Linked DNA regions of Homo sapiens: region 1 is reported to be linked to region 2. The links are microRNA targets in miRTarBase. Many come from high-throughput screens and were not tested one by one. Region 2 holds a microRNA gene; the other region holds the end of a gene's coding sequence.
What was found. The annotated mature microRNA hsa-miR-5003-3p reads UACUUUUCUAGGUUGUUGGGG and lies in region 2 at 2,285-2,305, shown strand. An mRNA with a match to its seed (bases 2 to 7 or 8) in the 3' UTR can be bound and repressed. Matches are read on the target gene's strand: a 7mer-m8 pairs with bases 2 to 8, a 7mer-A1 pairs with bases 2 to 7 and ends in A, and an 8mer does both.

Region 1 (3,411 bases), not on the chromosome of region 2:
ACCGGGGAGAAGCCATACCAGTGCAAGACCTGCGGACGGTGCTTTTCGGTGCAAGGAAACTTACAGAAACATGAACGCATCCACCTGGGCTTGAAGGAGTTCGTCTGTCAGTATTGCAACAAGGCATTCACCTTGAATGAGACCCTCAAAATCCATGAAAGAATCCATACTGGAGAAAAGCGTTACCACTGTCAGTTCTGCTTTCAGAGATTTTTGTATCTCTCCACCAAAAGGAATCACGAGCAGAGGCATATTCGGGAGCATAATGGGAAGGGCTATGCCTGCTTCCAGTGCCCCAAAATTTGCAAAACAGCTGCTGCCCTTGGAATGCACCAAAAGAAACACTTATTCAAAAGCCCAAGTCAGCAGGAGAAAATAGGTGACGTGTGCCACGAAAACTCAAATCCCTTGGAGAATCAACATTTCATTGGTTCAGAAGACAATGACCAAAAGGATAACATACAAACCGGTGTGGAAAATGTTGTCCTTTGAGTGGCAAGAATTAGAAAAATCTTCAAAAATATAGTTGGTGGTTTTTTTAGTTATGATTTAAGTTTAGTTTCATTTTGTCCATGTGACAGTCATGAAGGAGTGAAATTAAAAAAAAAAAAAACTCATTTGTGAAAATTCCAGAAAAAGGATCCTAATATCTACTTTGGGTTTTAGCATTAACTTTATGCAAAGTGCACAAAAACAAAATAGCTGACTCCTCCAATATCCCAAGTTTCTTGTGAAAGTTAATAAAATTCTTAGCTGTGGTATTTCTACCAGTGAAAAAAGGAGTTTAATTTTAGCCTAGTTTAAAACTTTCTAATAATTGCTAATAAGAACTGGCTGCTGAACTGTCTTTAGTCACTGGAGAAAATAAGGGTCAGATATCCTGAAGATGGCATCTTCGTAAATATGTTACGTGGTAATAAGCTGTGTGACGGTCTTTATTCCCATCTGGCTTCTGCACTATTAAAATTTGTTTAAATTAATGGATACACATGAAATACTTAAACAATATAACTGAAATTATGTGCATAATGAGTAACCTAAAGTAGGACATTCATACATTATGTAGAACTACTTTTCTGCAACACAAACCTTGTAAAATACATATATAAATCACTATAACTTTTAACTGTCCATATCCCCTGTAGAGAATTATGAGGAGCAATAGATCTGCAAATAATGAGGACTGATGTAAAAATCAATAGAAAGCATTTTGAATATGATTTAAGAGCATGTGAATGCTTTTAGATGGAATGCTGTTCCCTTGAAGTTATGGCTGAGCTGTTCTTAGAACTGGTCTACTCAATTCACAGAAAACATAGGTCATGCCTTATCTATGGGGGAACACCCTCCCAGAATTTACCTGTGATTACCTGTGCTGCATATTACTTTGCAATGGCCTCATCTCAGAGAATGAAAGAGGGTCACATTGTTCTGAAACTCTCTGCAGTCTTCCAACCACCACAAGGCCATGGATGTGGGGGTCTATTCCAGACAGACTTAAGGGCTCAAGTGGAACCTGCCATCTCCCATTCCACTGAAGGACTGTCCAAGAGATTTAGTGCAAGGTACACTGCAGTAGTGAATTCCCAGGCACTTGAAAGTGACTGCCTAATCCCTACAATTACTAGCCTTGTTGGAGATTATGCAGCCCACAAGTACAGACTAGTATAAAGCAAAAGGACAAAGGAACCCCCACCCTCCACCCCACCCATTAATGACTTGAGTGGGCAAGAAGAAGTGATGGCCTTCCTTGCCTAAAACAGTAGCTTTGTTTTTAGGGGGTGGGAAGGTAGGATGTGGAGTGACATGGTTCTATCCTTTACTTATGAGACTCAGAAATATATCTACAAAGCCAGATGCTCTGTCTTCATATTTGCAGACATCTAGACCCCTTGCTAAAAACCCACTGAAGTTTTTTTTTTATGTTCTTTGACCCACACCATCAACACTACCCTCAAATCTAATTGCCCTACAGCATATTCTATCATGTGGACTAGGTTCCTGGAAAGCCGGAACTCATGATTCTTTTTCAAACTGCCAGAATAGAAGGGAGAGAGAAAACATTTCTACCCTTTGATCACCAGTGTGAACAGAATCCGGAATGCAGTTTCAGCGTGACCTGCAGTCATTCATGTTCATTGGATTTGACAGATGGAAACCCAAGGTTATCGAAGATTGGAAGGTTATCATTGTGAAGAAGTAGCTCAAAGGACTCCGGTTTCTGTCTACAAGTGTGATGTCTCCATGAAGAAGACTTAGTATGGATTTGGGTGGGTAAGAAAGCATTTAAACGCCCAGGAAAGGACATGATTAAAGTTGACCTTTTAATACTGTAGTACCTTGCTGTTAAGTAACCCCACTATTGTATCTGCATTTATCTTTTGTTCATCTACTTTCACTTACATACAGTATTATATAAGTAGAGAAAAATGGGAAAATGCAAGCAAATTCAACTTTATTTTATACATTGTATATATGTACACCCTACACTATTCATTTGGGTTTTATTAAAGAGATAGTCACAAAGGGCTTACGAAAATCATTTTTGAATTGATAATTAGAATATTGAATAAGCAATCCTATGATCCACTAATTTGTTTTATCAGTTAATAATATTAATCAAAGACATTTACTGTATATTCTAGTCATTTTGATTTGAGTTAACCCCAAATATAAAATTACCTGTAGTGATGTCTCTCTCCCAGCCCTTATATGTGGATATTTTTTAAGTGGACTTGTATGCTGATAATTCTAGACCAAAGTAAATATGGCAGAATATTTATACATGAAAAAATAATTTTGCAAATATTTTCTATAATTGTATTCATTTAAAATGTTGATAGCTTGTGTTAGTTTCAGGGAGGGGTGTATATTTTGATAAAAAAATACTTGACTTTGTAATTCTGTATATTCTATACAATTTATAGCAGAGCCGTTTTAAGACAGCCTTGTCACATTTTTTTGTTAATTGTGAAAATTTTATTGAGTGATGTTTAAGTATGCATTGAGTACATGACCAACTAGAATTAAAGTAAGTGTAAACAGTGAACATACTGTATGCTGTACAAGATATAATGTAACTTGCTGTTTTAGCATCTGTATTTTGGTTAGAAGATATTATTAAATGCAGATGTTAAGGATTGGAAAAGTCTAATTTTATTTTTAGAAATAATGGATATAAATTTGTTTTTGCTTGATTAAAATAGCTTATTCCTACATTAAGTCTCTTTTTAAATGTTTTCATGTTATTTCTTTTGTGCAGCTATTTCATCTGTGTGAGTCACAGCTTTGTTTCCACGTATTATTCAGTTTATTTCTGTTTCCTTACTTGTTTACATTCCGTGGTACCTACTTACATGCTTAGGAGTCAAATGGATTATGACATTAGGAAAAAAGCAGAATAAAAGAGAT
Region 2 (3,411 bases):
GCCACCACCCTGTGCAGTCATGGGGTCTGCTTATGTCCATCCTTGCAGCTGGTCTCAGCTCGAGGGGGCGGGGACAGTGTGTGACTTGTCAGTGCATGTACCCGGCAGCCAGCGCGGGCCCTGGCCCAGAGCAGATGCTCTGTAAATGTCAGATGAAGGAGGAAGTGATGTACTCGAGAAGGAATGAGGGCACATTCCCCCCACCTCTCACTGCAGTGGGGCCCTAGCCCTGGGAGCCGGCGCCTCTGAAGTTGGAGTTTCCTGGGTCCCTTTATCAAGAAGAGACCACAGTCAGGGGGCCCGGCAGAGGGTCGGAGTCAGCTTGGGAATCCCAGCCCTGGCTGAGCATGCTTTGAGGGGGCGTCGGGATGACCTCACCCCCTGGGAACTCTCGCATCAGAGCCCACTCAAGCTGAGAGGTCTGCCACTTAGGCCTGGATGGAGTGAGCTTTTCTCCCCACAAGCAGCATTGCGACCTCTGGCCTCTCTGGGATGTCCTTGCAGCTGTTGACGGGGTTTTGTTTGCAAAGCAAAGGGAGCAGAGTGGCAGTTACCAGCGCGGGCTGGCCCTTTTCCCTTGGGGATGCTGGCCAACCAGGCCTCTGAAAAAGGGAACAAAGTCCAGTAAGCTGGTGTCTGTCTCCTGAGTGCCTGTCACTGCCCCATTTGGCAGAGGTGAGGAAGGGTTGGTTATGTTTTTTCTTTTCTCTTTATTTTTTTTGAGATGTAGTCTCCCTCTGTCGCCCAGGCTGGAGTGCAGTGGTGCGATCTCAGCACACTGCAACCTCCGCCTCCTGGGTTCAAGTGATTCTCCTGCCTCAGCCTCCAAGTAGCTGGGATTACAGATGCCCGCCACTACACCCGACTAATGTTTGTATTTTTAGCAAAGGCAGGGTTTCACCATGTTGGTCTCGAACTCCTGACCTCAGGTGATCTGTCCACCTCGGCCTTACAAAGTGCCGAGATTACAGGCGTGAGCCACCGTGCCCAGCCTGGTTATGTTTTTTTCCAGCCCACTTTTAAACCCACCAATGGAAAATGGAACTTTGTTGGCAAAGGTGACTGATATCTTGGCCCCTCTGGATATGGCGGGAAGCCTTGCTAAATACCAGCCTTGCCTTTTCCTCTCTCTAGAGCACAGCCTGCCCCCCTCACCCCAACACACATGAGCACCATGTTGCTTCCTACTGCCAACAGTGCTGGTTTACATTTTGGACTGGGGCAAATGTCATTTGAACCAGAGATTTCTCACTCAAGGTCTACAGTCCAAGGACGCATGTTATAAAGGTCCAGGTCCAGGAAGCCCCTGAAGTTGAATATCAGATTGTGCATGGAGTCTGGGTATGTTTCTGGGGGGAAACCCTGAAGTTGAATATCAGATTGTGCATGGAGTCTGGGTATGTTTCTGGCGGGGAAGCCTCTATAGATTTTATTGCTTCTAACAAGGTCCATGAACCATTCCCCACGCCCCGCCAACCCAAAAGTTATGGCAGCTGCCTTGAAGAAGGGGTGGGGTGGAAGAAAGGGCATGAGCCTGGTCCTCTCAGACCCTCAGTTTCCTCATCTGGGAAATCAAGGTGGTAAAACCCACTCTGCAGAGTTTTCCTGAAGATTAAACCCAATAAACCAAGACATGTACCCACTACATAGCAGAGGCCCAGTGAAACTCCAGTGTAATCCTCATGTTCAAAGGAAGAGGCAGAATAGACGATTCTCCCATTTGGCAATTCCCTTTCCTGGTGGAGAGGAATCTGCTGAAAACCTCAGCCAGCATGCCATCTGCGGAACTCCAGCAGGCTGGAAGCCGGCGTCTCGGGGCCAGAGTATCGGGAGCTGTTGCTTCCTGCCATCCTCCTGACGGTAACTGCCATTTCCTTGGGCTCTTTTTAGATCAAAGGAAGGGCTAGGCTGGAGAGATGAGTGGGGACCATTCAGGGGATGGCACAAGGCGCATTTAGGACGCCTGCTGGCATAGTTTAAAAATAGGCTTCTGTCCTTGGACACCAAGGGGAAGCAACCCCAGGGTTTTCAAGAGGCCTCTGCTGGCCAAGGTTATGAGCCCTACACGGGAGAAAAATGTTTCAGAACGTATTTTCCCAGCTGCCACAGGTAGGTATCTCTGACCCAGGAATAAACCTTTCCTAGTCAAAGGAACTAAATAAGGTGGTTAAAGGAGGAGATCAAGTGTTTAATGAGCACCTACTACATGCCACACACTGTGTGTCTGATGAGTTTGCTTTGTGTCATCCTCACAACAACCTTGCAGGGTAGAGATGATTTTTCCTACTTTTCTAGGTTGTTGGGGGCTGGGGCAGGGGGAACAGAGAAGTTAAGTACGGACCTCAAGATCACACGGACCGCAAGATCACACAGCTAATAAATAAGCAAAACCAGAATTTAAACCCAGGTCTGACTCCAAGCCTGTGCTCTTTTTAACCACCTCTCAAACTGTGATGTAGAAATAAAAAGCATGAAAGAGATGGAGGTGAGGGGCTTACCCAGTGGTTGGACTTGTTATTTCCCATGGGGAAGGGAAGGGAATAGCTGTTTATTTAACATCTACTATGTGCCAGGACTTCTGCCGGGATTTTTCTATGCTCTCATTGCCCCTGCCAGCAGCCTGAGACAGGGGTCTAAGGTCACGTGCCATTTAGACATGACAAAACTGCAGTTCTGGGAGGTACAGTGACTTGCTCAAGGCTCTCAGACAAATCAGTAGCAAAGCACAGGCTTTCATCCAGAGCCCATGAAGTAAATCTCAGAGCCACCCAGGAAGCAGTTCTTATGTTGACCGGCCTTCCAGAAAGACTTGCCAAGGCTGGGCAGTGGTGACCCTGACAGCCAGAGTTCCCTCCTCCCTAACCACCCACAGACACTCATCACCCACCCTCCAAATCTCTGCCATGCATTTCGAGTCTGGGCACTGTTTCCTTGACTAACTGCTGGAAAGACACTGCCCTCTAGTCTTGGTGGGGCTGGAGCAGCCTGTGATTAACCATGGGGGTTAGGCTGGGCATGGTGGCTCATGCCTGTAATCCCAGTACTTTGGGAAGCTGAGGTGGGTGGATTGCTTGAGCCCAGGAGTTCGAGACCAGCCCCAGCAACCCTGACTCTACAAATAATAATAATAGCCGGGTGTGGTGGCACACACCTGTCGTCCTAGCTACTTGGGAGGCTGAGGTGGGAGAATCACTTGAGCCCGGGAGTTTGAGGCTGCAGTGAGCTGTGATCATGCCACTGTACTCAGCCTGGGAGACAGAGCAAGACTCTGCCTCAAGAAAAAACTTAAAAAGCCATGGGATTGACCAGGTGCAGTGGCTCACGCCTGCAATCCCAGCACTTTGGGAGGCTGAGGCAGGTGGATCACAAGGTCAGGAGTTCGAAACCAGCCTGGCCAATATGGTGAAACCC

Region 1: miRTarBase lists ZBTB38 as a target of hsa-miR-5003-3p. Seed matches in the 3' UTR shown: 7mer-m8 at 3,144-3,150.

Annotation. Positions count from the first base shown.
Region 1 is chr3:141,445,485-141,448,895 of GRCh38, forward strand. It overlaps ZBTB38 (zinc finger and BTB domain containing 38), which reads left to right. Exons shown (of 6, transcript NM_001376113.1): 6 at 1-3,411. The coding sequence ends at 492. It overlaps LOC124906291 (a long non-coding RNA gene), which reads right to left. Exons shown (of 2, transcript XR_007096120.1): 2 at 3,155-3,411. Among named protein-coding and RNA genes, the nearest start is that of RASA2, 40 kb to the right of the region's middle.
Region 2 is chr5:172,659,938-172,663,348 of GRCh38, forward strand. MIR5003 (microRNA 5003) reads left to right here and starts at 2,228; the gene lies at 2,228-2,326. The region is part of intron 1 of NEURL1B (neuralized E3 ubiquitin protein ligase 1B); the gene reads left to right. RefSeq lists an enhancer at 168-257.